Regions from separate parts of the Homo sapiens genome. Here region 1 is linked to region 2. The links come from fine-mapping of genetic effects on gene expression. A gene starts in region 2. The other region holds a variant in brackets. All regions are shown on one strand. Distances are from middle to middle. Region 1 overlaps AMDHD1 (amidohydrolase domain containing 1). Region 2 holds the start of AMDHD1 (amidohydrolase domain containing 1).

Evidence for each region.
Region 1: its variant is fine-mapped to the expression of AMDHD1 in stomach (GTEx, PIP 0.97).

What each region holds. Positions count from the first base shown.
Region 1 is chr12:95,962,306-95,974,489 of GRCh38, reverse strand. It overlaps AMDHD1 (amidohydrolase domain containing 1), which reads right to left. Exons shown (of 9, transcript NM_152435.3): 6 at 12,011-12,135; 7 at 8,711-8,804; 8 at 7,982-8,142; 9 at 5,770-6,734. The coding sequence ends at 6,647. HAL (histidine ammonia-lyase) reads left to right here. Exons shown (of 21, transcript NM_002108.4): 21 at 118-1,828. The coding sequence ends at 258. Among named protein-coding and RNA genes, the nearest start is that of AMDHD1, 25 kb to the right of the region's middle. RefSeq lists enhancers at 3,094-3,739, 3,740-4,385, 7,854-8,338. The variant C/T (reference allele first, on the strand shown) is at 4,322.
Region 2 is chr12:95,934,659-95,951,642 of GRCh38, reverse strand. AMDHD1 (amidohydrolase domain containing 1) reads right to left here and starts at 8,312. Exons shown (of 9, transcript NM_152435.3): 1 at 8,108-8,312. The coding sequence starts at 8,244. CCDC38 (coiled-coil domain containing 38) reads left to right here and starts at 9,029. Exons shown (of 16, transcript NM_182496.3): 1 at 9,029-9,212; 2 at 15,120-15,170. The coding sequence starts at 15,134.

The DNA.
Region 1 (12,184 bases), 25 kb before region 2:
AGCAGCTGTGTCTGGTCATGTATAGAGTATGTTTTGACTTCGGATGAAGTTGATGTTTAATAGCATGTGGAAACAATGTCGTCAATATTTCAACTTTGTTTTGTCCTTGCTTTTCAGGTTTGGGAAGTAGCTGCTCCATACATTGAAAAATACAGAATGGAGCATATTCCAGAATCAAGACCTCTTTCTCCAACAGCCTTTTCACTGCAATTTCTGCACAAGAAATCCACCAAAATCCCGGAGTCTGAGGACCTTTAATGGGCTTTGTCATGAAGTAGCAGATGAGAGGGCAGTCAGTTTAGCACAAAGCAATACTAGGCTGAAGGAGAGACCTGAGAACTTTCCTAGGTAGATCAATCCATTGTATCATTCAGTTCTTCTAAAGCCTACGTTGGTTAGGCTGATGGCAGTATTATAGTTGCTAAATTCAGCACTGTGTTCCTGTTGTCGTGGTTCAAGACCCACCAGGTATTTTCAGATTATAAAACTTTTCTTTCTTTCTTAACAGTTTCAACAGGCCACTCACTCTTAAGGGTGAGAAGAATAACCACAATTGTATGTGCCTGTTTTTTACTCTTAGCATTAGATGAATTCAAATTTGGAAACAGATTGATAGCAATTTTTTCTAAAAACATTAGACTTTTGTTAACCTTTTTTTTTTTTTTTAAATTTGCTTCAACAAGCTCTCCACCAGTTGACTTTCTTTGGCTAATTTTACTTTGCATGATATGCCTTAATATGCCTTCATAAATAACCATTTTAAGTCATAATTTGTCCTTAAGCTGCTTTTTTCTTCTATTAATTGGATCATAGTAAAGAGTAGTCAATAGGGTCTTCAGCTATTAATTGTAGAGGTGATTAAAACCAACAAGGAGTTTCATGTGCAAAGGAGATAAGGAATGAATATAAAGATTGCTATTTGGGTGGCTCTTATTAAACTGTGTATTTTGTACTTATCACTACACGTATCCCCCAAATGCTTACATGGGAGTTTGAGGTTAGTATTTTCACTTCCTTGGTGTTAGTACTCTATTCACATTCTTATTGTAACCTTCCTCATTTCACAGATAAGGAATCTTTGGGGATTAACCAACCTCCTTTCTGTAATGGTAATCATTAAAATAAGTCCTATTGATAAAGGTCAGATGGAGCCCTAGAGTGTATTACTGCATCTATTTTTTTCCCCGAGAAGATAAAGGACCTTCAGGGATGGCTTAAGTGTATCTGTCCAGATGAAGGATGGGTCACATGACCTCTTGGCTTCCCAAGTCTAAGCTCTGTGACTTTGCACCAGTGTGTGCATATATGTGCAAGGCCCTTCAAGTGGTCTGAAACCGTGGCTCTAAAAACCACAGCTGGTGGAGAGGAGGACAGACACACTTGCCACCTTGCCTACCTAATTGCCATCTAAAATGGGCCGAACAGTGGATTTCACAATAGAGTTTTCACCCTTTAGATTTACAACCTGTCAGGTGGAAACTGAAGTGAAAACTGCTGCACACAGCAATTCAGGGAGCAAAAAATGTGCTGAGGAGACTGTTTACCTAAAGGTTGTTCTTGGTGCTATTCCTTGTCAAAATGTGAACACACACAAATGAGGTTTGTGCATTGTCATCCGTGGGCTGCCATTGAGCCAGTAACCCCCAGTGGTCTCATGGTGCTCTTCGCTCCAGTTTGGGGAATGCTGGATTCTTTCAGCCCCTGCAGCCCTCCAGGTCAAAATGACACTTTGTCACTGAGTTTTCTACACAGCTCTATTAGTAACTGACAGCACACGCCTTCAAGGGAACTTCAAGGGAAACATGGAATAAACTAAGTCTCAATTGCCTTATGGTGTCGCTTTATTCTTAGGTATTTATAGCAAAGTTAAGCGCCTCTAACAGCAGTTAATCAAGCTTCTGAAGGATTCAGTTGACAGATGTCAACCGTTTTAAGAACAATATGCTTGACTCAGTACACTCTTTTTCCCATTGGCTAGCAACAAAAGAGTTGGAGGTATCAGGATTTCCTCCCCAGCCCCGCAGGCTCACCTGGTCTTTGTCACAAGTTGTCTCAGGGCAGCTGGAGGAGGCAAACCCTAAAGAACAAGGGCTTTTCAAGTCCCTGTTGTGCCACGTTCGCTAATGTCCTGTTGGCTAAAGCGAGTCACGTTCCAGGCCCAGAGTCAATTTGGGAGGGTAACACTCAAGGGCATGGGCATGTGATTTGACGTGATCCATGGGCCTGTATCTGACAATCTACCACATGCATAAAATCCCATCACAGGCTGGGTGCAGTGGCTCATGCCTGTAATCCCAGCACTTTGGGAGGCCAAGGTGAGTGGATCACGAGGTCAGGATTTCAAAACCACCCTGGCCAAGATGGTGAAACCCTGTCTCTACTAAAATTACAAAAATTAGCCAGGCACCGTGGCAGGTGCCTGTAATCCCAGCTACTCGGGAGGCTGAAGCAGGAGAATTGCTTGATCCTGGGTGGCAGAGGTTGCAGCGAGCCAAGATCGTGCCACTGCACTCCAGCCTGGGTGACAGAGTGAGACTCCATCTCAAAAAAAAAGAAAGAAAGAAAAAAAAGAAAAGAAAAAGAAAAAAAAGTCATTACAACCGGCAAAATTCAAAAGCAGATACATTTCATACTGCTTTAAACCTGTGTCTGATTTTTGGGTCTGGTCACTGGATTGCTTTTTATTAAACTTTATGGTTCTCTTTATGGTTCATTTTGCTTTTTTTTTTTTTTTTTTTTGAGATGGAGTCTCGGCTCTGTCACCCAGGCTGTAGTGCAATAATGCTACCTTAGCTCACTGCAAACCTCTGCCTCTTGCGTTCAAGCAATTCTCCTGCCTCAGCCTACCGAGTAGCTGGAATTACGGGTATGCGCCATCACACCCGGCTAATTTTTGTATTTTTAGTAGAGATGGGGTTTCACCATGTTGGTCAGGCTGGTCTTGAACTCCTGACCTCCAGGGATCCACATATCTTGGCCTCCCAAAGTGCTGGGATAACAGGCGTGAGCCACTGCTCCCAACTCATTTTGCCTTTTTGCTTACTTTTGTTGAGAGTATTAATTTATTAAATGTAAACATTGTAAATGTAAATGTAAATGTAAAAAATAGTTGGAGAACATTAGTTTCAGCCCAGAGGGTAGACTTCATTAGTCTAACATACAAAAGACAGTTAAATTACAATGCTACAAAGGCTATCATAGAGATGTGGGAATGTGGGGAAGGGCGTCCAGCTCCAGTTTCCCATGTAAGGAAGAGAAGGAAAGCATTCTGGGCAGAGGGAACCGTATTGCATGGCCCTGAGCAGCTCACTGTCCCCTAAGGAACAGTGTGAAGATTGGTGTGATTAGGGCTTAGAACTCAGAGCTGCTCAGACCTTAATGTGCATGTGAATCACCCGGGGCTTATTAGCATGCAGATTCGGACTCAGCAGGTCTGGGTCCAGCCAGAGGTTCTGCATTCCTAGCAAACTCCGTCAGTTGCACGGGCTTGCAGCACGCTGGCCTGGGAGGACTAGGGCAGTTTGGGTAGATGTCTTTTTCTGTCTTCTTTCAAAAAAGGCATGAATGCTATTTGTTTAAAGTGAGTGCCTCCTAGATGAAAAATCAGATGTGCTTCTCCTTCTTGTTTCTTCAATAGAAGAATCTAATCTTGTGTTGCTTGAGTTCCAGGGAAGACTCGACCTAACATTCCGTTTTGGCTTTTATGTGTATCTCCTGCGCCCCAAATGTTCAGTGCCTAGGTGACTGGTCACAGGGGAGCCATCACACACAGCAACTGTGTGCCCCCTACACTGTCTCAAGACTTCTTAAATAATCGCATGAGGTTCAGAGCTCCAGAGACCCCATTGTGATTGTGTCCGGAATTGGTGGGTTCTTGGTCTCACTGACTTCAAGAATGAAGCCGCGGACCCTCGGGCTGAGTGTTACAGCTCTTAAGATGGTGCGTCTGAAGTTGTTCGTTCCTCCCGGTGGGCTCGTGGTCTTGCTGAGCTCAGGAGTGAAGCTGCAGATCTTCGTGGTGAGTGTTACAGCTCATAAAAGCAGCGTGGACCCAACGAGTGAGCAGTAACAAGATTTATTGCAAAGAGCGAAAGAACAAAGCTTCCACAGTGTGGAAGGGGACCCCAGCGGGTTGCCAATGCTGGCTCGGGCAGCCTGCTTTTATTCTCTTATCTGGCCCCACCCACATCCTGCTGATTGGTAGAGGCTAGTGGCCTGTTTTGTCAGGGCGCTGATTGGTGCGTTTACAATCCCTGAGCTAGATACAAAGGTTCTCCACATCCCCATCAGATTAGTTAGATACAGTTTCCACACCCAGGTT[C/T]TCCAAGGCCCCACCAGAGCAGCTAGATACAGAGTGTCGATTGGTGCATTCACAAACCTTGAGCTAAACACAGGGTGCTGATTGGTGTATTTACAAACCTTGAGCTAGATACAGAGTGCCGATTGGTGTATTTACAATCCCTGAGCTAGACATAAAGACTCTCCCTTTGGGAGGCCGAGACGGGCGGATCACGAGGTCAGGAGATCGAGACCACCCTGGCTAACACGGTGAAACCCCGTCTCTACTAAAAATACAAAAATTAGCCGGGCATGGTGGCGCGCGCCTGTAGTCCCAGCTACACGGGAGGCTGAGGCAGGAGAATGGCGTGAACCCGGGAGGCGGAGCTTGCAGTGAGTCGAGATTGCGCCACTGCACTCCAGCCTGGGCGACAGAGCGAAACTCCGTCTCAGAAAAAAAAAAAAAAAAAGACTCTCCACGTCCTCACCAGAGCAGCTAGATACAGAGTGTTGATTGGTGCACTCACAAACCTTGAGCTAAACACAGGGTGCTGATTGGTGTATTTACAATCCCTGAGCTAGATATAAAGACTCTCCAAGTCCCCACCAGACTCAGGAGCCCAGCTGGCTTCACCTAGTGGATCCCGCACCGGGGCTGCAGGTGGAGCTGCCTGCCAGTCCTGCGCCATGGGCTCGCATTCCTCAGCCCTTGGGTGGTCGATGGGACTGGGCGCCGTGGAGCAGGGGTGATGCTCGTCAGGGAGGCTCGGGCCGCACAGGAGCCCATGGAGTGGGTGGGAGGCTCAGGCATGGCGGGCTGCAGGTCCCGAGCCCTGCCCCGTGGGAAGGCAGCTAAGGCCCGGCGAGAAATCGAGCACAGCGCTGGTGGGCCAGCACTGCTGGGGGACTCAGTACACCCTCCGCAGCCACTGGCCCGCGTGCTAAGTCCCTCACTGCCCGGGGCCAGCAGGGCTGGCCGGCTGCTCCGAGTGCGGGGCCTGCTAAGCCCACGCCCACCCGGAACTCCAGGTGGCCCGCAAGCGCCGCACGCAGCCCCTGTTCCCGCTCACGCCTCTCCCTCCACACCTCACTGCAAGCTGAAGGAGTGGGCTCCAGCCTTGGCCAGCCCAGAAAAGGGCTCCCACAGTGCAGTAGGGGGGCTGAAGGGCTCCTCAAATGCCACCAAAGTGGGAGCCCAGGCAGAGGAGATGCCGAGAGCAAGCGAGGGCTCTGAGGACTGCCAGCATGCTGTCACCTCTCATGATGACAACAATGTGCAATGTTACCCTTAACCTTCCAGTGAGGGGCATTTTGAGTTGCTTTATATTGACTACAGCAAAGCCTCATTCATTCAGGCTCTATTAAACTGAAATTAGTGATCACTTGGAGAGTTAATCTTTACTTCTCAAATCATTTCTTACCAAGTTTGGTAATGCAGTTGTGATTATAAAGATGATCGAAACACTTAAAAAGATTTCAAATCAACTTACATGGCTTTTAAAAACACCCATTTATATGTAAATAATTATCGACTCTTTACAAATAATTTTGTAATTTCCTAAAAACTCTAATAGACAACGCTGCTGATCTACTTCCAGGCTGAAAGGAAACAACAACAATAAGAGCGACAGCAAACATTTATTGAGAGCTGTAAAATGTGTTTCACCCAATTGTAATGTAAAGAATCGAAAATTTTAAAAAATTTCCAAAAAAATTACATGATTGTAGTTGGTAAAAATGCACCCATTTCAGGAAGGCCCCTGTGCCTGTGTATAAATGATGTGTCTTGAACGCTGCTGGGAAGCTCTATTGCTGAGATTGAGAAGACCTTAGAAACGGAAGGACACTCTTCATCAGAGGACATTAATTCATTTGACAAGCATCTAGAAAATGAACTACTTGGGGAAAGGAAATACTATTTGCTTAACAGAAGGCTATATTTTAGCTTCATTGGGGCGTATCACTTAGATTTCTTTCGATCCCTCAATGTTCACTAAATATAGTTTAAAAACTGAGATGTGAAATACAGACACAAAATGGAAATTTTAAGCCAAGCCTACTTTTCCCCACAAAGGCATTTTTGTGATACCCCACCATATTAATCTACAGAATATTTGTAACCAATATTTGTGAACTAATTGGATGTTTTGTGATTTTAATCACAATAGGTTTACCTGTTTATATGTCAAATGCATGTGTTAAATGAAAATAAATCTATCCCTTGGGTTTTTTGAGTGACTTAAAAAGACATTGAAGTACATTTAGGTTTAAGTGATATAATTCTTGTAAATATTAAGGTGTTTTAACTTTTAATATAACTATATTGACTTATTTCATATAGTCAAAAAGTCTTCTCTTTTCAAATCTATCATGTTTTATAGATGAGTTTTCCTTTAGCTATAACATATTCAATTAATTCATGATGGCCTCCGAACTGGTAAATCAAATGCTCCCATCTAGAAAAAAAAAAAAAAACAACAAATATTACTTCAATGTGTGCAAGTAAAAATTATTACTTTATCAATAAATGCTAATTTTAAAATGCATTCCCTACACATTTATTTACACCCAGTCAATGGTATTTGGGCTTTCTAAAAAACCGTATATAACTAACTGGTCTATGGTAAATCAAACATTGTTTAATAATATCATTTAAGTACTTGATCTTAAAATATTTGCTTCATTAAATGATACATAAATGTCACCATCAGCATTATATCCAATACAGGGAGTGGTTTCTGATCATGGAGAGAATTTTAAAGCAGGTGTCTCTGGAGGACTTGAGGTCCAAGGGCTGCAATGGGCTCGTAAGAGTCAAGTAGCCATAGGATTTACAACTTGTAGGTCTAGAACAGTAAAACCCTGATATGGTTTGCTGCTATGTGCCCACCCAAATCTCATTTTGAATTGTAGCTTCCATAATTCCCACATTGTGGGAGGGACCCAGTGGGAGGTAATTGAATCATGGGAGTGGGTCTTTCCCATGCTGTTCTCATGATAGTGAATAAATCTCACAAGATTTGATGTTTTTATGAATGGGAGTTCCCCTGCACACGCTCTCTTGACTGCTGCCATTTAAGACATGACATTGCTCCTCCTTTGCTTTCCGCCATGATTGTGAGGCCTCCCCAGCCATGTAGAACTGTGAGTCGATTAAACCTCTTTCCTTTATAAATTACCCAGTCTCGGTATGTCTTTATTAGCAGTGTGATAACAGACTAATATTACACTGGAGGCCCAGGTGGCAACAGACTATGGGTGGGTGAGTGATAAGTCACCAGGAACAAGAAAACTAAGTTTAAGCTTTTGGGAGCCAGTCGGCATGAGAAATCAGAGAGGGAATGAATCAGAACCAAAGTGAGAAGCCAGAGTTGGGAGCAAGTTGAAAATCAGAAGCCGAGCAGAAAAACACAAACACATGCCAGAGGGCACAACCCGGCCAAAGTCCAGGTAAACAGAGCAGAAATCTGGAAATCTACGAAAAATACCAGACAGATGAAGAGATCTTGAAAACTTGGTCTACCCTGTTGTTTAGGGTCTGTCAGTAGATTTGCTCTTTGGAAAGGGATCAAGATAGAGGGGACTGGATAGTGTCTGAGTCCAGACAGAGTCTGACACTAATAATTAGTGGAAAAGGGATTTAGGCCTCATCTGCATACTTCAGTGGGCATAATATAAAAGAGCTAAGTTGAAGCACACTCACCGGGATGAATTGATGATAATGAGATCTCCCTGTTTGCCAACTTCCAACGATCCGTGTGTGTGAGACTTTCCCAGTGCATAAGCTGCATTGATGGTGGCAGCGGCCAAGGCCTCAGGCATGGACATTCTCATGTTTACACAGGCCAGATGCATGACCATTGGCTAAGGCAGGAAGAGAAAAGTGTTGGAGGAAAGTGACATATGGCAACTGCAATTTAAAACATTTCTCAACACAGCACAACAAATAGAGGCAGTTAAAGGTATAGGAGGAATTGGCTCAGTTGCAATGGGAAAAATCTAAGTTTATACATAAAGATTCTTAGACTTTGGAAAAGATTACTTTATTATAGGGATTGCGTATTTAATATTTATTGACAACTTTTCAAGACCACTTACTGCACACAATGAAGTTCACTTCCATACTTACTAAGACCTCTTGGAGTTTATGCTATTCTCTGGAGAAAGGAAATGGGTTACTGTAAAACTACAATACTCAAAGCTGAATCAGAAAATAATGCATGTAGAAGCTTCTCTCCTCTCTCTATGCCTGCAGGCATTTATGTGGGACAGAAAAATCCAATTACACTGCTGTCTACCCCTTTTTTTCTTGTTTCACAGAAAAATATTTTTAGATTTTTTATACTGTTTTAAAAGCTAGTGAAATATTTTTAAATTATTTATATGCTTGGTAGATACTCTGCTCAGAAAGGTACATGAAAAAAATAATTACCATTGAAAAGCAATATGCATTGGGGTTGAAATCACTTCCCAGAGCAACTATTACTCCTTCATCTAACATCTTCCTGGCTCGAGGTTGTTTCAGTCTAAGGGGAGGAAAAAAATATGTCAGTCTCTAGAATGGGAGCTTTTGTAGAATAGCTGTTCAGAACAGAAGAGAACTTGAGACAGTCAACGCCTTCATATTCTGGAAGAAGAAGCAGAAACTCAAGATTAAATGATTAGTGGTAGAGTTACATATATAATCCAAGGACTCCTGATTTTTATCATTCTGCTTTTGCAGTTACTTAGATATGACTAACATTTAATTAATGATTGTTTATCTCATCCATCTTTTTACATATTAAGGCATTCTTGCAAAGGGAGGAAAATATAACTTACAAATGGTTTTGGAATTTAATAAGCTTTTTGGTGACTCCCAAATTAAATAATAAATGAGGTTACACTATGCTTTTTTTTTTTTTTTTTTTTTTGAGATGGAATCTCTGTCTCTTGCCCAGGCTGGAGTGCAGTGGCACGATCTCGGCTCACTCCAACTTCTACCTTCTGGGTTCAAGCGATTCTCCTGCCTCAGCCTCCCGAGTAGTTGGGACTACAGGCACCCACCACCACGCCCAGGTAATTTTTATATTTTTAGTAGAGATGGGGTTTCACCATGGTGGCCAGGCTGGTCTCAAACTCCTGACCTCAGGTGATCCACCCACCTTGGCCTCCCAAAGTGCTGGGATTACAGGCATGAGCCACTGTGCCCAGCCACAATATGCTATTTTTATTAGTTTCCATTTTGCAATTTCCTATTCACATCTCTCCCTTTGCCCTCTTTTTTTTTTTTTTTTTTTTTTTGCCTCAAACATCTCTGTAGGTCCTTTAAAATCTTGAAGGCCCAAGAATTTAGTGTGTAAAATGTTTATACTTCTTCCTGGATTAGGCATCCCCTTGACCTCCCTGGTGAAATATTCTTTATTCTTTAAGACATATCTCAAAAGTGTTACATCAAAAATAAACAAAGCCTAAAAGCTCGTTAAAGCAATGAGGACAGATTTAATTTGGGAATAACAGCTGCAATAGAGAAAGAGTCCAGCAGAGATAATTCTCATCCTAGAGTCACTCCCAGTCTATGATCGATCATTTGTAGGACCACTTAAAATGTTTTTCAACAACGTATGAGAGGAGGTGAGTGAAGCAGAGACAGAGAGTGAGGAAAGGGTACAGCTTCAAATGTCCCTGCAAGTCATTTGAATGGCCCTCCCCCCCTTCCATAAATACTTAGGGGTAAAAGAGGAAAAAGTGAGGCTGTAAAAGTATTAGGGCACTCCATAAAAACCAAGGTGAATATTTCCTGAATACATTTAAATATTACATGCAAATTTACATAAAATACATGATTAAAGCAAGCCCTTAAGTAGCATAAGGCAATGGTTATTCTGGAAATGAGAGTCAAGAGAGGGTTCAGGGGAGAGCAGGGGGCCCTGCTGGTCTCTCCTGATGCAGAGATCAGAAAAATATAGAAACGAGAAGCCAGAAAGCAGAGTGTGGCCTTCACTTCGACTGCCCCTGTGGTCCTAATAGGAGGCTAAACCTGTCTGTGGCAATGGCAGATGACAGCCTCCGCTGGTATAGGAACAAAGTTCAGACTTTTAATGCTGAATTGCCCTCCAGTACCACAAAGTCTTAGGCTTTTGCTCCATGTCAAGAGATTCAAGACTAGTTAAAGAAAGGCCTTTTTTTTTTTTTTTTTTAAGATGGAATCTCACTCACTCTGTTGCCCAGGCTGAAGTGCAGAGGTATGATCTTGGCTCCCTGCAACCTCTCCCTCCTGGGTTCAAGGGATTCTCCTGCCTCAGCCTCCCGAGTAGTTGGGACTACAGGCGCGCGCCACCATGCCCAGCTAAATTTGTATTTTAATAGAGACGGAGTTCAACCATGTTGGCCAGTCTGGTCTTGAACTCTTGGCCTCAAGTGATCTGCCCACCTCGGCTTCCCAAAAGTACTGGGATTACAGGCGTGAGCCACTGTGCCCAGCCGAAGAAAGCCTTTTCTTTCCAAAAAAATAAAAAACAAAAAACTTATTTCTTGGGTGGTGGAGACAAATATTGATTGATGACTTAGACTGATGACACTTGAAATGTATAAGACGTTGGTCATACCAAGAACCGTTATTGATATTTCCTGATTATAGTCTACATTGTGTTTACTCTTTAAGAGAATAGTAATAATAATAAAAATGTATAATATCATACATGTGCATATAAAATCATAGTAGATTTGAGAAAAGCACTGAAGTATTCCTTTCTTCGCCCTTCTAAAAGTTACTTGGAGCCTGGTCTTACCTAACCTCAGTACAATTCATGTCTTGGGCTGGATAATTCTTTGTTTTGGGAGCTGTTCTGTGCAATGAGGACTGTTTAGCAGCAACCCTGGCCTCTACCCACTAGATGCCAGTAGCATCCCCTAGTTGTGACAACTAGAAATGTCTCGAGACATTGCCAAATGTCCCCTGAGGGACAAAATTACCCTGGGGTTGAGAACCACTGTCTTAACTGCAGAATCACTCCCCATGAAAAAGACCACATGTCCTAGCTACACAGAAAGCACCTAGTCCTAAGAGAAGATAAACTTCCTCTTGACTGCTGGCCTCCCAGACCACAATCTTGGATATCATATAAGTAAGTGGTACAATGGGAAGTGTCAGAAGACCTCAGATCTCATATTGGTTAGAATCAGAGCAACAGTAATAACAGACGAACTAAGTATATTCAATTCATAGACAGCATACAGCAAAATATCTGGGGAGATTTTATAAAATATATGTCTCCTCTTTCCTCCCACCCCCAGGATTTATAAAGATTTATGGCAATTATGGTACCCACTAACATCCCTTTAGAAAACAGCTCATGCAGATTCTGAATACTGCTAAATATCTTTAACATCTTATGCATATATTTAAAAGTATAGCACCTATTTCATTATTTACTAATTATAAAAGTAATGCATAGTAATTCTTTTTAATTGAAAAATTCCAAAATCCATGAAAAAAAAGAAAAAGAAAAAGAAAGCACCATCTTCCTCAATAATCCTGCCACTCAAAGGCAATCTGGGTCTAAGTTCCTTCCTCAGAGAAATTCGTTTACGAACATCAGTCCAGGGTTGGCATCTTCATTAGCTGAGTTTTCTTCATCTGCATTTTTAAGGGATTTGTAAGGGCAATGAAATAATGTCTGGGCACTTTGGACGTCTGTGTCTTCACAGCTTGTACTTGCAGCTCTTGGTCTGGGGTGAGAAACGACCTTACCTCAGCATGTAGGCTGTGGTGGGCAGAAGGATGGCAGAGCACCTGGCCGTTGCCATGGCAACGATGCCTTCATCACTCACTTCTTCCAGGTGGCTGATTGCCTGCGCTCCCAGTTCAGCCCCAAGCTAAGGAGAATGGGCAGAGAGGGAAAGATTTAACAAATAGCAACAACGA
Region 2 (16,984 bases):
AAAATAGAGCTACCATATGATCCAGCAATCCCACTGGTAGATCTATATGCAAAAGAAAGGAAGTCAGTATATTAAAGAGATGTCTGCATCCCATGTTAATTGCAGCACTATTCACAATAGCCAAGATTTGGAAGTACACTAAGTGCCCACCCACAAATGAATGGATAAAGAAAATGTAATACATACACACAATGGAGTACTATTCAGCCATAAAAAAGAGTGAGATTCTGTCAATTGCAACAACATGGATAGAACTGGAGGACATTATGTTAAGTGAAATAAGCCAGGCACAGAAAGACAAACTTGGCATATTCTCATTCATTTGTGGGAGCTAAAAATGAAAACAATTGAGCTCATGGAGATAGAGAGTAAAATGATGGTTACCAGAGGCTGGGAAGAATAGAAGGGGAGAGGAGAAAAATGGGGATTGTTAATGGCTAGAAAAATATGGTTAGATACAGTGAATAAGACCCAGTATTTGATATCACAACAGGGTGACTACAATCAGCAATAATATGTTGCACATTTTAGAATAACTGAGGGAGTACGATTGGAATGTTTGTAACACCAGGAAATGATGAATGCTTGAGATGATGGAAACCCCATTTACCCTGATATAATTATTACACATTGTACGACTGTTTAAAATAACTCATGTACCCCATATATATGTACCCATGAAAATTTACAATTAAAAAAACTTTAAACGTCAAATATATGTAGCAGACAATTGCCATTTGTTCCCCAAGATCAATGTTCCCTTTTTTACACTAGTAGAGCCCTAAATTTTAGCTGGACACATGATGACCCAAAATACAGACTACATTTCCCCACCTCCCACTAGCCAGGTGTGGCTATGAGACTAAGGTCTAGCCGGTAAGATTGTCTTCTCTTCCTATTCTTACTGGCTGGAATGCAGACACCACAACTAGAGATGGGGTGGCCATCTTGGGTCATGGAGTGAGTGTAAGAAAGTGGGCCATGCATGGGAGAGCAAGGCAGCAGGGGCCTGGCTCCTAAGGACCCCATGGAGTATTGCAATCAACTAGCCCTGCATTCGTATGTCTGGATTTTCACATAGGAGAGAAATATACTTCCATCTTGTTTCAGCCACTATTAATTTAGGTCTTGGTCACTTACAACAAATTCGTATTTCCAACATGGAGATTGAGGGCTATAAACCTGAGAGCTGGAATGTGTTGTGAAAAGCAATTAGGATAAGGGATTCCGAACTGGGACAGAAGTGGTTGGGGTAACCTAACAAAATGTAAGAGTGGAAGAGCAGAAGAAACTGGATGGAAAGAGAAGATGTTATGATAGGAAAAGAAATAATGATTGTGGGAGATTTGGGGAGGATAAACTTAGGGTGGAATAAGAAATTAAGTCTTGAAATAGAATTTAGTATCCTGATTAAGACAATTCTTCATCACTAACAGCTTTTATCTGGCCCAGTTAGATAATCTACCCAGTGTGCAGTGAATCTGGTGGTGGAAAGGACCGGCAGGATTAGAAATTGACCCTTGAATGGGAAAGAACAAAGAGAATGCTCTTATGCAAAGAGTTAATGACTGACACTGCTTTAAGAGAGGTTGTTTTAACAAAGTCAAACCTAAGAAATAAATCTCTAACATTCTCCGTCTGTGCAGGAGGTGAATTTTGAGGGCACTGGGTCCTCTTCCTGACCCCACTAATCCCATGCTTATCTACCTTTCAACAGTGTGGTTCTCTCATTCATCTGTGGATGTACCTATGTTTGAACAAAGGCTTATGTTCCTTTGTTGAGGACATAATGAGGGCAGTTATTGAAGGAAACCAACAAAAAGCATTCCCCCAAAAGTGTTTTTTTAAGGTAGTCATTAAAATTACAAAGATACATATTACTGCTATGGTGAGATTTTCACTATTTATGACTAAGTGAAAAAACCCGAATACAAAACAATATGCATAGCTTCCTTTTCTAAAGCATGCATTTTTATGTGATTCTATTTGCATAGGAAAACATCTGAAAGCAGAAGCACTAAATGTTGGTATTAGTTCACCTAATGATGGGGTTTGAGTGACTTTTTCCTTTTTGTTCATCTGTATTTTCTTTTCCTACAATGAACGTATATCACATATACTTTTTTAGGGGATACAAATAATAGGCACATGTGGTTTTATTTACTTTGTATTCTGAGAAATTTAGGAAGAAAAATTCTGCAGAGTCTTCTGAAAGTAAAGCAAATTAGCAAGCAAGACCCTACTTTAGGAGCTAAAGTATAATTATAATGAAAACAGTAATGATGATGATTTAAGGAGGATGATGCTTCTTTGAGTGGCTCTCAGGGTGCTTTGTGAAAATTTAGAATTGGCACATACACTGTCTCAGTTTCTAAAACCTAAAAATTGGTCTTGTTTTATAGTAGATAAATCTGACACCTCTCCCGATCCTCCCATTGGTTCAGGCACCCCTCTGTGCAGTCTCTTTTTTTTTTTTTTTTTTCTTTTTTTTTTTTTTTTTTTAATTTATTTTTTTATTGATAATTCTTGGGTGTTTCTCACAGAGGGGGATTTGGCAGGGTCATGGGACAATAGTGGAGGGAAGGTCAGCAGATAAACAAGTGAACAAAGGTCTCTGGTTTTCCTAGGCAGAGGACCCTGCGGCCTTCCGCAGTGTTTGTGTCCCTGATTACTTGAGATTAGGGATTGGTGATGACTCTTAACGAGCATGCTGCCTTCAAGCATCTGTTTAACAAAGCACATCTTGCACCGCCCTTAATCCATTTAACCCTGAGTGGACACAGCACATGTTTCAGAGAGCACAGGGTTGGGGGTAAGGTCACAGATCAACAGGATCCCAAGACAGAGGAATTTTTCTTAGTGCAGAACAAAATGAAAAGTCTCCCATGTCTACTTCTTTCCACACAGACACGGCAACCATCCGATTTCTCAATCTTTTCCCCGCCTTTCCCGCCTTTCTATTCCACAAAGCCGCCATTGTCATCCTGGCCCGTTCTCAATGAGCTGTTGGGCACACCTCCCAGACGGGGTGGTGGCTGGGCAGAGGCGCCCCTCACCTCCCGGACGGGTCGGCTGGCTGGGCGGTGGGGGCTGACCCCCCCCCCACCTCCCTCCCGGACGGGGCAGCTGGCCGGGCGGGGGGCTGACACCCCCACCTCCCTCCCGGACGGGGCGGCTGGCCGGGCAGAGGGGCTCCTCACTTCCCAGTAGGGGCGGCCGGGCAGAGGCGCCCCTCACCTCCCGGACGGGGCCACTGGCCGGGCAGGGGGGCTGACCCCCCCCCACCTCCCTCCCAGACGGGGCGGCTGGCCGGGTGGGGGGCTGACCCCCCCACCTCCCTCCCGGACGAGGCGGCTGGCCGGGCGTGGGGCTGACACCCCCACCTCCCTCCTGGACAGGGCGGCTGGCCGGGCGGGGGGCTGACCCCCCCACCTCCCTCCCGGATGGGGCGGCTGGCCGGGCGGGGGGCCGACCCCCCCACCTCCCTCCCGGACGGGGCGGCTGGCCGGGCAGAGGGGCTCCTCACTTCCCAGTAGGGGCGGCCGGGCAGAGGCGCCCCTCAACTCCCAGACGGGGCGGCTGGCCGGGCGGAGGGCTGACCCCCCCACCTCCCTCCCGGACAGGGCGGCTGGCCGGGCGGGGGGCTGACCCCCCCACCTCCCTCCCGGACAGGGCGGCTGGCCGGGCGGGGGGCTGACCCCCCCACCTCCCTCCCGGATGGGGCGGCTGGCCGGGCAGAGGGGCTCCTCACTTCCCAGTAGGGGCGGCCGGGCAGAGGCGCCCCTCACCTCCCAGACGGGGCGGCTGGCCGGGCGGGGCGCTGACCCCCCCACCTCCCTCCCGGACGGGGCGGCTGGCCAGGCGGGGGGCTGACCCCCCCACCTCCCTCCCGGACGGGGCGGCTGGCCGGGTGGGGGGGCTGACCCCCCCATCTCCCTCCCGGACGGGGTGGCTGGCCGGGCAGAGGCGCCCCTCACCTCCCGGACGGGGCGGCTGGCCGGGCGGGGGGCTGACCCCCCCACCTCCCTCCTGGACGGCACGGCTGTCCGGGCGGGGGGGCTGACCCCCCACCTCCCTCCCGGATGGGGCGGCTGGCCGGGCAGGGGGCTGACCCCCCCCACCTCCCTCCCGGACGGGGTGGCTGCCGGTCGGAGACGCTCCTCACTTCCCAGATGGGGTGGCTGCCGGGCGGAGAGGCTCCTCACTTCTCAGACGGGGCAGCTGCCGGGCGGAGGGGCTCCTCACTTCTCAGACGGGGTGGTTGCCAGGCAGAGGGTCTCCTCACTTCTCAGACGGGGCGGCCGGGCAGAGACGCTCCTCACCTCCCAGACGGGGTCTCGGCCGGGCAGAGGCGCTCCTCACATCCCAGATGGGGCGGCGGGGCAGAGGCGCTCCCCACATCTCAGACGATGGGCGGCCGGGCAGAGAGGCTCTTCACTTCCTAGATGTGATGGCGGCTGGGAAGAGGCGCTCCTCACTTCCTAGATGGGATGGCGGCCGGGCAGAGACGCTCCTCACTTTCCAGACTGGGCAGCCAGGCAGAGGGGCTCCTCACATCCCAGACGATGGGCGGCCAGGCAGAGACACTCCTCACTTCCCAGACGGGGTGGCGGCCGGGCAGAGGCTGCAATCTCGGCACTTTGGGAGGCCAAGGCAGGCGGCTGGGAGGTGTAGGTTGTAGTGAGCCGAGATCACGCCACTGCACTCCAGCCTGGGCACCATTGAGCACTGAGTGAACGAGACTCCGTCTGCAATCCCGGCACCTCGGGAGGCCGAGGTTGGCGGATCACTCGCGGTTAGGGGCTGGAGACCGGCCCGGCCAACACAGCGAAACCCCGTCTCCACCAAAACCAGTCAGGCGTGGCGGCGCGTGCCTGCAATCACAGGCATTCGGCAGACTGAGGCAGGAGAATCAGGCAGGGAGGTTGCAGTGAGCCGAGATGGCAGCAGTACAGTCCAGCTTCGGCTCCGCATGAGAGGGAGACCGTGGGGAGAGGGAGAGGGAGGGGGAGGGGGAGGGGGAGGGGGAGGGGGAGGGGGAGGGGGAGGGGGAGGGGGAGGGGGAGCAGTCTCTTATAATAAGCCTGCATGCACACATCTCTCTACCTTTGTGCTTACCATATTGTATTATAATTATCTTTTCATGTGTCTTGTTTCCCAGTAGACTTTGAGCTCTTTGAGGTCTGAACCAGTCTTAGTCATTTTTGCATCCTCTACGCTGAGCACAATCTAACTACTCAGCACATATTTGTGAATGAATGAAAATGTCCTATTTTAGGTTCATTGTCCACCTGACAGTTTAATTGGCTTCTAGGAAGGAAAATATAACACCCACCAATTTTTCCTTCAACATTTTCCATTTTTGCCCCTCCTCTGAAGTGCTAAAACAAATGGTCCTTGTGTATGAATCTATATTTTAATTCCTGTTTGTTTTGTTCATTTAGACATTTTCATCTAGGTTTTAGCCTTTGGATGGGACAATTGTCAACTGGATGACAGTTTGTGCTTCTTTTCCACACCTGGGAGCCTCTTCAAGATTAACTGCAATCTACACACACACACACACACACACACACACACAGAGAGAAAGAGAGAGAGAACTTAATTTAAGAATGAGATACCTTTAGAGACCTAAATGAATGAACACAATGGTGGAATTTACACCCTATGGCAGACAATCACTGAGATATTTATTTTTAGGAAGGGGGAGTTTCTGGTGTCCCTCAAACCATATTCTTTTCCAGGACTCATTTTATATATCTATAGCATATAGGGGATTAACTATTAGTTGATCTTACTGAGATTCATTCTAATCAGGACACACCATGGTATGTATATACTTGTTGGGAAAAAAAAAAACACACACTGTTAAAATCCATCCAATTCTGGGCTTTGAAATGGAACTTTCTTCCACTTCTCTGTGCTTTTAATCAGTACCCCTCTCCCTATACACACTCACACTCACAGCCTGTGTTCTTCTTGTCTACCAAAAGAAGAGCAGGATTAAGTTGTCCTTGAACACACAGGTTCTGCATAAGGGAAGTGATGTGAAAATTTAAGACAATCACCTAAATAATTCACCCTGAAAACACTTTTACCTTAAAACATTCAGATAATGAGGTGGGAGATATATTTCAAAGCATCTCAAATAACCAGATAATTATTCCAATTCTATACTTGATTTTTGCACCAACCTAATATATAAGACAGTGATGATAGTAAGTGAAAATAAAAACAACACCATCCTGTACCGAGCTAATCATATTTGAATGGCAAAGTTCTCAATATTCTTGTAAATTTATTTCATTGTAATAAATCCAACAAACTGTGAGAACAATGTAGCAGACTCAAATGAAAAAGCCCCATCTTCCAGACCACAAGTCAGCTCCCTCCTTTTCCTTTCCCTACTTTTTGTGGTTTTGATGTGAACATAGAACATGTCTTGGAACCCAGGACTTCATGTTGGTGCATTAGTATCATTTTATTTATGTATTTATTTATTTATTTTTGAGACAGAGTCTCGCTCTGTCACCCAGGCTGGAGTGCAGTGGCGAGATCTCAGCTCACTGCAACCTCCGCCTCCCGGGTTCAAGCGATTCTCCTGCCTCAGCCTCCCGAGTAGCTGGGATTACAGACGTGCGCCGCCATGCCCGGCTAATGTTTGTATTTTTAGTAGAGATGGGGTTTCATCATGTTGGCCAGGCTGATCTCGAGCTCCCAACCTCAGGTGATCCACCTGCCTCAGCTTCCCAAAGTGCTGGGATTGCAGGCGTGAGTCACTGTGCCTGGTCGCATTGATATAATTTTTATAAGATACTCCAGTCCCAACCCAGGTACATATTTTTCAACTTTCTAAGCAAAATTTTAAATAATATTTTCATAGTAAATTGGGAATGTTTTCATCCCTTAATTAAAAATAAACCAGTCAAGCTGGGCGTGGTGGTTCACGCCTGTAATCTCAGCACTGGGAGGCCAAACCAGGTGGATGGCTTGAGCCCAGGAGTTCAAGACCAGCCTGGGCAACACAGTGAGACATTGTCTCTACAAAAAATACAAAAATTAGCCTGGCGTGGTGGCGTGCACCTGTAGTCCCAGCTGCTTGTCAAGCTGAGGTGGGAGGATGGCTTGAGCCTGGGAGGTGGAGATCGCAGTTGAGCCTGGGAGGTGGAGCCAAGATCATGCCACTGCACTCCAACCTGGGCAACAGAGCTAGACCCTGTCTCAAAAAAACAAAAAATAGGCTGGGCGCAGTGGCTCATGCGTCTCAAAAATAAATAAATAAATAAATAAATAAATAAATAAATAAATAAATAAAATTAAACCAACCCACAGTCCCTTAAAAGCTGGGCTCTTGCACAACCCTAAACTGCCTCAGATAAGCCGTGGTCAGTTTGTGAGACTCATTGATCGTGTGCAATTGTGGTCCCATGGCACGCTTTGGATTCAAATTCTCATCCAACTTCCCTTGCTACCCCAGGTCGCCCTCAAACTTTGTTCTTTTATTCATATCTGGCAGGAAGCTCAGATGAGTAAGAGAAATATCTTGTTTTCTGATGGTCAAATCTTGATTTATTATCACTCAGGGCCATTATCGTCTAAATGTTCTCCGTGGTTCTAAAGCTTTAGTGTACGAGATCACGAGGATGTGAAAGGTACTTTTGAAAAATTCAGGTCTCAGAACTCCAGCCCCAGTGATGCTGATTCTAAAATTCTAGGGATAGGGAGTGGGGGACGCAGGTGGAATCAGAAATCTGCCGTAAGAATAAAATAACCACAGGCCACCCTGACAAAGGTGGTCTTCTGGCCTCCCTTTAAGAAGCACTGGGGAGGACCTCAACCCCTTCTGATGGTTGGACAGTGATATTTTACCAGCAGAGGCAGGACCCTGATGCGTTCCAATGGGGTGTTCCTCTCTGAGCTCTTTGGACGGAATGACAACCCCAAGCAGCAGAGCGTGTTAGCAACAGGTACCCCAAAGGCTGGCTTGCCCGTGTATCTCTGTGCAGGGACGCTTTCACGGCGTTGTTTCCCTCCAGAGTGCACAGTGAGAGGAAGAGCGGCCAGCTCCGCCCGTGGCGGTCCCCACCCTGCGCGCCCGGCCACTTACTTGCCCACCACCAGGCTGGCGCCTTCCAGCACCGCCAGGCTGCGCAGCGCATCCCGCGCCAGGAAGCGCTCGCCGCGGGCGCACACCAGCACCACTTGCTGCGCGTTCTCCAGCAGGAGGCTGTGGCCGCTTGCCATGTCGCCTCGCGCCGAGGGTCGCCGGGAGGCCACCGGGCTCGGGCCACCGGCAGGACTCAGTGGAGGACGAAAAGCCGCAGCCTGCGCTGTCCGGGGCTGGGAGGGTGGGGCGGGGGCGGGCGCTCGCAGCCGCTGCCCTTTGCTCGCCTCCCCCAACCACAGCAACGGGGGCGGTAATCATTGCAAGAATGGCAACGAGTAATAAACCTGATGAGGAATCCTCTCTTTTTTGGTCGTCTTGTCCCATCCCGAGTAAACGAGATGGAGACTAGTGTCCCTACTTTTCAGATAAGGAAACTTAAGCTTGGTCACCCCGAGAGATCAAAGTGAGCTGTGTGGATCACGTGGTATGTGGAAGCGCGTCAAGGGTTGGCTGGGTGAGGGCACCCGGAGTGTTCGGGAGTGAGGGACCGGAACCTGGGGTAGAGCCCCGGAAGGGGGGCCATGGGGGAAACCTCTGCCCGGGGGGTTGGGGTGGGAGCCTGGAGATAGCGCTCCTGGAGAGGGCAGAGTAGGGGAAAGCTGTGCCCAGGGGCAGGGACGGGAGCTTGGAGGTAGAGCCCCGGGAGAGGACAGAGTGGGGGAAACCTCTGCCTAGGGTGCTGGGACGCGAGCCTGGAGGCAGAGCCCCGGGAGGGTACTGCGTGGAGGAAACATCTGCCCACAGGTTCTGGGGCGGGAGCCCGGGACGCGGAGGGCCGCGAGCCGAGGGAACCTGGGGGTGGGGAGGAGGGGGATGCGGTAGGGGAGGTGCTCCTGGGTCCGCGCGGGTGGCGGGTGCCCCGCACTTATCCGTTGGCCAGCTGCGTTCCGGGATCAGCTACCAGACGGTCCCTGAGATGACCGGGAACCGGGCTGGGGGAGGATAGAGCCGAGACTGGAGGATCGATTGGCACCTCCGCCCACTTTTCCCACAACGCCTTCCCGAACGATAGGTTGGAAAGGCTCCTGGATCCAAACTCGCTGAGGTAAAATAGGTTTCAGCTCAGTGTCCGCCCCTCCGCATGCCCCCTCCCACCCCTCAGCTGTGTCTGGTGGGCCTACAAGCAACTTGCGACCAAAATTGGAGACAGAATCAAGTTTATGGAAGATGGTCTGTGATTCTCAGCCTCGTCGCTTCCTGCTACCAATTGCTATGGAAACACTGCCAGGCCCAGGCTTTTGAGTCCTTAATTACTTGATTTCGTTTATTCATGTTTATCACAAGCTCTGTGTTAAGTCTTGTGGAACATACAAAGATAGGAAAGGCGCTTTCCCTGCCCAGTAAAGACTTTACAATAAAAGTGATAGATGTGGACACAAATAATATACTATAAAAGCAGACTAAGCCTGCAAACCCACAAAATATAAAAGTTAATTTAGTCTCATTAAAAAAACCTGGAACAGAAAGCAAACACTCCTTTAGATGACCACGATAAATAAGAATATAATTTAGCTTCATATTATGGCCTATAAAAGAGAGATCAGTTAGGAAAGAGAAAGATAAAAATTGGAAAATATATAGACAATGTGAGTGAAAGAGACCCTAAGGGTGGGGGGGAGGGGGCATCAGAAGATTATTCACAGCTCATATACACAATCACAAACAGGTTGTTTGTGTGTGTGTGTGCATAGCTTTTAAAAAGTTTATACATACATATATTTCTATGTCTTTAAAAAGAGAAGTAGAAATAGTGGGGAATAGAAACACATAAAGTCACTAATTCACAGAGAAATATTAAAATTTTCTATTATAAAATTTCTGCTGAAGACTTTAATCAGTTACATTTTGCAATTTTAGGCATATTTGCAGAACTATGCAATTGTATGTATAAAGGATGGGTTAAAATTATAGAAAAATAGGGTTCAATAAACTTGTCTTAGTCTGAGTTCTGTTTCCTATAAGCTGTTTGACCTTGGGGAATTTCTTTACAGTAATTTCTCGAAGCCTCGTTTTCTCATCCTCATCATAGGGAGAGCTGTTTCTACTTTATGGGCTTGTCTGAGTTTTAAATAAAATAAAACATAAATCACTTAGCCCAGTGCCCAGCTCTAAACAAGTAATAGGTATTATTACTATTATTCGTGTGTTTTAATCCTGCTATTTGTCTTCCTGGCCAATTAAGTTAAAGATTAGATTTCAGCCAATAGTATAGTTCCTCTCCTGACTTCACAGACCATGTACTTAAAGCTTGCAAGTTCTGGGTGAGTCTAAAAGAAATTATATTTCTTTTTCATAGGTATTTATGTTTGTGGGTGAACTGTGCATCTGATTCACAGTCCAGACAGACAACATTACCTGATAAGCTCCTGCAAACAGGAGGTTTGCAAAAGCAGAAAGGATGAGTGAATTTCTTTCCTTAGTTACTGTTCAGTAGTTATAGATGGATAAGGATGACACATTTTTCCTTGGTAATAACCAACATCCCGATAGCAGCTCTTATAAAATACTTTTCACATTATCTGACTTGTATATGCTGACTCCTTAACCCATCCTTCCTTCCTCTTGACCTCCAGTTTTTTTTTTTGTTTGTTTGTTTGTTTTTTTTCACTTCGCAAAAGGGGCAGTCAGAAATGTCAACAGAAGCGTCCATACTAAATAGCCTGACGCCAGCAGTGCCTTAAAGGTCAAGGTGAAAGTAATTTCCTCATCATTGTGCTGTGCTCTGACCTAGTCAGAAGCGGCAGCGTGCATCTAAGCAGGCCAAGGACCCAGTGGCTCCTGGCTTTTAGGTAAACAAAAAATTGCTAACTGTGATCTCCCCACACCATCCAAGGACACAGTTCACAGCCCCTTTTCCTAGTATTTGTCCAAGGTAGGCGGAGAGGAGGTGGGAAAAAAAAATGGAAGGGCATTGGGTCTGAGAGAACCAGTCTAAATCCTCATATGCATGTGAAGATAAACATTGCTTTTTATCTCACATTGAGATCATCTGGAAATTCGTTTTCATTGGGTTTTAGAGGGGGTTGTTGCAAAAAAACAAATAAACTGATTCGAATAATATCTGGTAGACAGTGTTATTATTCATTTTATTTAGAGTTGGTTTAGAAACTTAGGACTGGGCCTTATCAAATCCCACTCCTCTTTCCCCACTTCCCCTGGAGCTCAGAATGTTAAGACTCTACATGAAGCTGATTCAGGTCCCCCAGATTTGCACTGATATTGCTGGTAGACTCCTCTCCAATGACCAGGTTTCAAGAACTTTGATTGGGAGTTTCTTACAAAAAGTAGTTGTCAGTTATGCTCCCATTTCAAATGGCGGCAGTTGACAGAGTGGGCCAGAAAGAGGAAGGATCTGGACAATATCTAGTTTGAAAAAAGTATAAGGGATCACTTCTTCACAAGCCTACTATGAGCAGGCACTTTGCATATATTATCTGTGTTTGAAAATTGCACCAGGCCTGTAAGGAAGGTGTTATTATTCATACTTGATAGAAGATTCTACAGTGCATTAAGCATAATTCTCTAGACCCAAGAGAAAGAGTGGATAAGAGTCAGAGGCAGGAGTTAAACCTACCTGCCCCCAAAGGCCAGGGGTCTTTCCATAGTGCCATTCCTACTACCCTTGCAATGACACTTGTCAAGAGACCTGACTCAGAGACCACATATAATTGTACAGCTATTAAAGGAACACAACAATTAATTAAATCAACCAGCATGGGGTTCACTTGAAAGAACAGTATACATTACACCCATGTCCCTTTAGATATCTAATATATATCTCAAATTTCACATGTTCCAAAATGAGCCTCTGATCTTCCCAAGTGCCCCTTCCCCCACTGCCTTCTCTGTCTCCATTTATGGCAACTCCATCCTTTCTGCAATCAGTTCTTTATCTCATACTCCACATCCAAACCATCAGCCAATCCTGTAGACTCTACTGTCAAAACACATCTAGAATCGGACCACCTCTCACCACTTCCACTGCTATCCCAAGGAAGGGATAGCATTATCTCTTGCCTCCCAGTGGCTGTAGTCTCCTAGTAGATCTCCCTGTGTGACCCTTTTCCCTTTCTACAGTCTCTTCTCAGCTCAGCATCAGAGTGATTCATTGAATGGTTCCATTTCACTGAGAAAATGGCCTCCAGGGCCCTCGTGATCTTGGACTTCTTGTCTCTCTGGCTTCATCTGGGGTGCTGTCCCCTTTGTTCACTGTGTTTAAGGCCCACTGGTGTCCTTACTGTTCCTGAAACACACCAGGCACATTCCTCCCTCAGAGTGCACCTCTCCATGTGCTTACACTCCCATAGCACATACTATGCAACTGAGGCCATCCAAAGGCTGGACGTGGTAACTTACCTAACAATCCCACAAGGTAGATACTATTTGCATCATTCCTCTTGAAAGATGGGGAAATTGAAGTGTGAGGATTAAGGGACATAGAGAGAGTCTATGTTCTTAATCATTTAGCTTATGCGACCTCTAAAATGGATGGCTGGCAGTTATACACCACCATTTTACATTCCTGATATTTCTGAGCTTTTGATCTTTTTCATCTATTGGAAGTTGGATGTGAACGTGTATTTAAGATGTGAACTTTCAGGCATTTGCTATGCAATCCAATAACATTTTCCCTCTCTTTTGGTACAGAGCCTTTGTTTAGCCATCATGCTATTTTTATTTCGCACAACAAAGACATCCACTGACTTCAACATTTTTTCTGATTGGAAAGGGGACTTTATAATCCCTTCCTAACAATAACTGGTTCTGTTCCTCTCCCTCCCTTTTGTTCACCAACCTTTCATTCATCAATACAGGAATTCATGCATATGGAAGTATAGAAGTATAACAACATCTGGAGACTGCTGATTGCATTTACATGTTATATGAACTATATAATAGAGACAGAATAAGAGCAGATATCTGCTCTTAGCAATTGGTTTAAAGGAACAGAACTTCCAGTTTTTCTGTGAGTGAAAAAGTCCTTGAACCCATGGATAAAGATGCTCATTGCAAAAAGACTTTAAGGATAAAGGGAATGAGAGTGGGAAGGAGAGTGAATTTAGATAGATAGAAGGACCAAAGGAGTGAAAATGTGACAAGAAAGAGGTGATCAGAATCCTAAGAGTGGAGATGAGTACAGAGTGTAAAATTGAGAAAATCTACAAATCTTTAGTATTAGCCATCCAAATTCCAAATACTCATCAACCACAGGTTGTCACCAATTTTTCACCGATCTTTCTTTTCCCCCGTGAGAATGAATTTAATGCCTGTGAAAAAATGTTCAGTCATTTGAAAAAGTATAATGTCAATGTTATAGTTTTTATTCATTTTTTTCTCTTTTATAAGCTTTGACATAATTTTTTAAATATTTGTTTTTATAACCACTGGAACTAAAATCAGATGCTAATTAGTAAATATTAGCACATAATAGTTCCCACTTACTGAGCTGGTCTGTAAGCCAGGCACCCCACTTGGTTAAATCCATTGCCCACTGAATCCTCAAGAAAGCCTTAAGAGGTGTGTCCACTTTATGAAACAGGAAGCAGAGGCTCAGAGATGCTGAGTAATTAAGATGTAGGCTCCATGAAGACAATAGTTTTTGTTCTTTTTTGTCTTTTTAAAAATTGCCCTGTCCCCCACACGTAGAACAGTGCCTGACACATAGTAGGTACTCAATAAATGTTTTTTGAATGATACATGAACTTGCTCACACATAAGTAAATACCAAACCAAGATTCAAAAATCAGGCTTGTCCAAAGTCTGTGTTCTTAATCATCTGCTGCTCTGCTTCCGGGATATTTAGCTCTTATATATGGCTCTTTGAGATTCCTGAGGCACATATTTAAATGAGTAGCCCAAAATAGAATGTGTTGTCCATTGTTTCTGCTGCGGGCACATTTTTAAATATAAACTCCTGGGTGTCCTTTATCCCCAAAATGAATATATCTTTATTATTTTTCTCATTGTAACAGTTACACCAGCTCACTGAGAAATTTGAATGATACTCAAAGTATAGAAATCAGAACAAGGATTAGGGTAAGGCCAGTGAAGCTCTAGCTTCATGCATAAAATTTAAGGGGAAAGCAAAAACTCAGTAATCAAAATAAGCAATATTTTAATTCACTATTTTAAATATATAAATTAATGTAAAAAATTCATGATAAATGAAATAACAGAATTTTAAATAGAGACAAGTTCTGTGGGCCAGGATTTGGGTGAGTAGAGTGAGGCACTGGCTCTCAGGGTCACACAAGTACAGGGTCAGAGACTGTCCGTATTTACAATTTTGATATTTTGTTCATTATAGAATTTCCTGCATTTATTTGGAATTTTATAAAAATATATTGCATTAACATTTAATTTATCATAATAACTGAAAGTTGATTTTTTTGTTTTGTTTTTGTTTGTTTATTTTGGCAATCCTTAAGCTTTGCAGCTAAGATTGAGTGCCTCAATCACCTAACCCTAATCCCAAACCTGGTAAAAATGAGAGACTGCACCAAATCACATGTAATCAAGATTCATGTTTGATGAATGGCATTTCAAACACCTCTCAGATTTTTGCATGCATTTTTTAATCCACACTATCCCTACTCTTTTGAAATGTTTTGTTTTTTAACCAATACCATGGAGAGAGGTAAATAGTGACTACAGCATCATTTTAAGGGCCAACTGGAATTTATTTTATGGATATACCATAGTTATTTGGTCAACTCTGTATTTATGAAATGACATTGAACAAACATTATTGCACATGCTTTTTTGGCTGCTTGTCTGATTATTTTCTTGACATAAGATACCAGAATTGAAATTGCTGGGTCAAAGAGTATGTGTGTGCTCACTGCTTTTAAAAGCCATAAGGACTGTTAAGGAGTCATTGGCAGTTGAATTTAGCCCTTTTATATGATGTTCATAGAATTTTTAAAAAACGTATTTTTTTTTCTTTCAACAGGGCCAGGCAAGAAAATGTCCTCAAATTTATTGCCAACACTGAATTCTGGAGGTAAAAAGAAATCAATCAATATATTCTTGTTTGGGCCTGGCAGTGTTAGGCTCCATAACAGATTGTGAGCATAAGAAAAGGAGAATGTTACACCATAAATATAAAATGTAATGAGTTTATAAACTACCTGCAGAGAAGATTCTGTTCTACTTTTTAATTCAAAAAAAAAATCTTCAAATCAGAGGGTGCATTAAATTGTCATATTTAGCCAGATTGCCCCAGTCTCTCATGACAGAAAACAAGTAACTCAATTATTTGTCATAGTCAAGGACATACCTAACTAAACTTTATGAAAATCTGCCCTCTTCTTTCCTTTCCCACCCTTTCTCATCTTATCCTTCTGCCTATTTTTTATTTTTATTTATTTTATTTTATTTAATTAATTACTTTTTTTGAGATGGAATTTCGTTCTTGTTGCCCAAGCTGGAGTGCATTGGCGCAATCTTGGTTCACTGCAAACTCCGCCTCCTGGGTTCAAGTGATTCTCCTTCCTCAGCCTCCCAAGTAGCTGGGATTAGAGGCATGCACCACCACGCCCAGCTAATTTTGTGTTTTTAGTAGAGACAAGGTTTCACCATGTTGGCCAGGCTGGTCTCAAACTCCTGACCTCAGGTGATCCACCCACCTCGGCCTCCCAAAGACCTGGGATTACAGGCATGAGCTATCATGCCCAGCCTCCTTCTGCTTATTTATGAGCATACAAGGAATTAGTATTTATTGGTATATAAGGAATTACAATTTTCTCTTACAAATCTGACAAAAATTTAACATTTGGATAACACTAAGAGTTTGTAATAGGTAACAGGCACTCAGGCTCTCTATAGGCATTCTCTTTAAAGGAACATTTGACACTATTTGTATTTACAATGTAAAAGTTTGGCTGCAAGAGACAGAAAATATAAAACAACTGTGGCTTAAACATGATAGACGTTTGTTCTCTCTCAGGTTAAGTCTGGATACAAGCATTCCATATGGAGGTTCACATCAGGGGCCCAACTCCTTCTGGCCTGTTCCTGGGCTATGTTCTTGGTCCAAGACGGCTGCTTCCACACCAGTGATTACATCCATATTCCTGCCAGCCAGGAGAAAAGGGGAAGGGGGGACATGCCCTGAAGTTGCATTCACCACTTCCGCTGACCTGCCTCCAAGGGAGGCTGAGAAACATAGCCTCTACTCTGAGTGTTCATTTAGGGTTCTATTCCTATAGAAGAAGGAAGAATGGATATTGGGGGTTCACTAGTAGTATCTGCTCCACTACCATTTTTTTTAAAAAAGCATTTAAAAGGAGCCATGTTTGGAATTTATTCTACAGATATGTATGCACAAGTGATTAAAGATGTGTGTACAGGAATATTTATTGCAGCATTGTTTACAATAGCAAAAGACTGGAATCAATCATAATGTCCATTGGAAAGGGTTGGTTATGTAAACTATAATACAACCAGGGAATGGGATAATGGGATACTAGACAGACAGCTTCTCTGTCACCCAAGCTGAAGTGCAGTGGCACCATCTCGGCTCACTGCAACCTCCGCCTCCTGGGGGTTCAAGCAATTCTCGTGCCTCAGCCTTCCGGGTAGCTGGAATTACAGGTGCCCACCACGCCTGGCTAATTTTTGTATTTTTAGTAGAGACGGGTTTTCCCCATGCTGGCCAGGCTAGTCTCCAACTCCTGACCTCAGGTGATCCGCCCGCCTCGGTCTCCCAAAGTGCTGGGACTACAGGTGTGAGCCACCACACCCAGCCTAGTTATTTAGTTTTTTTTTTTTTTTTGATGTCGTGAATATATATTTGCTGATATAAAAGGAACTCCT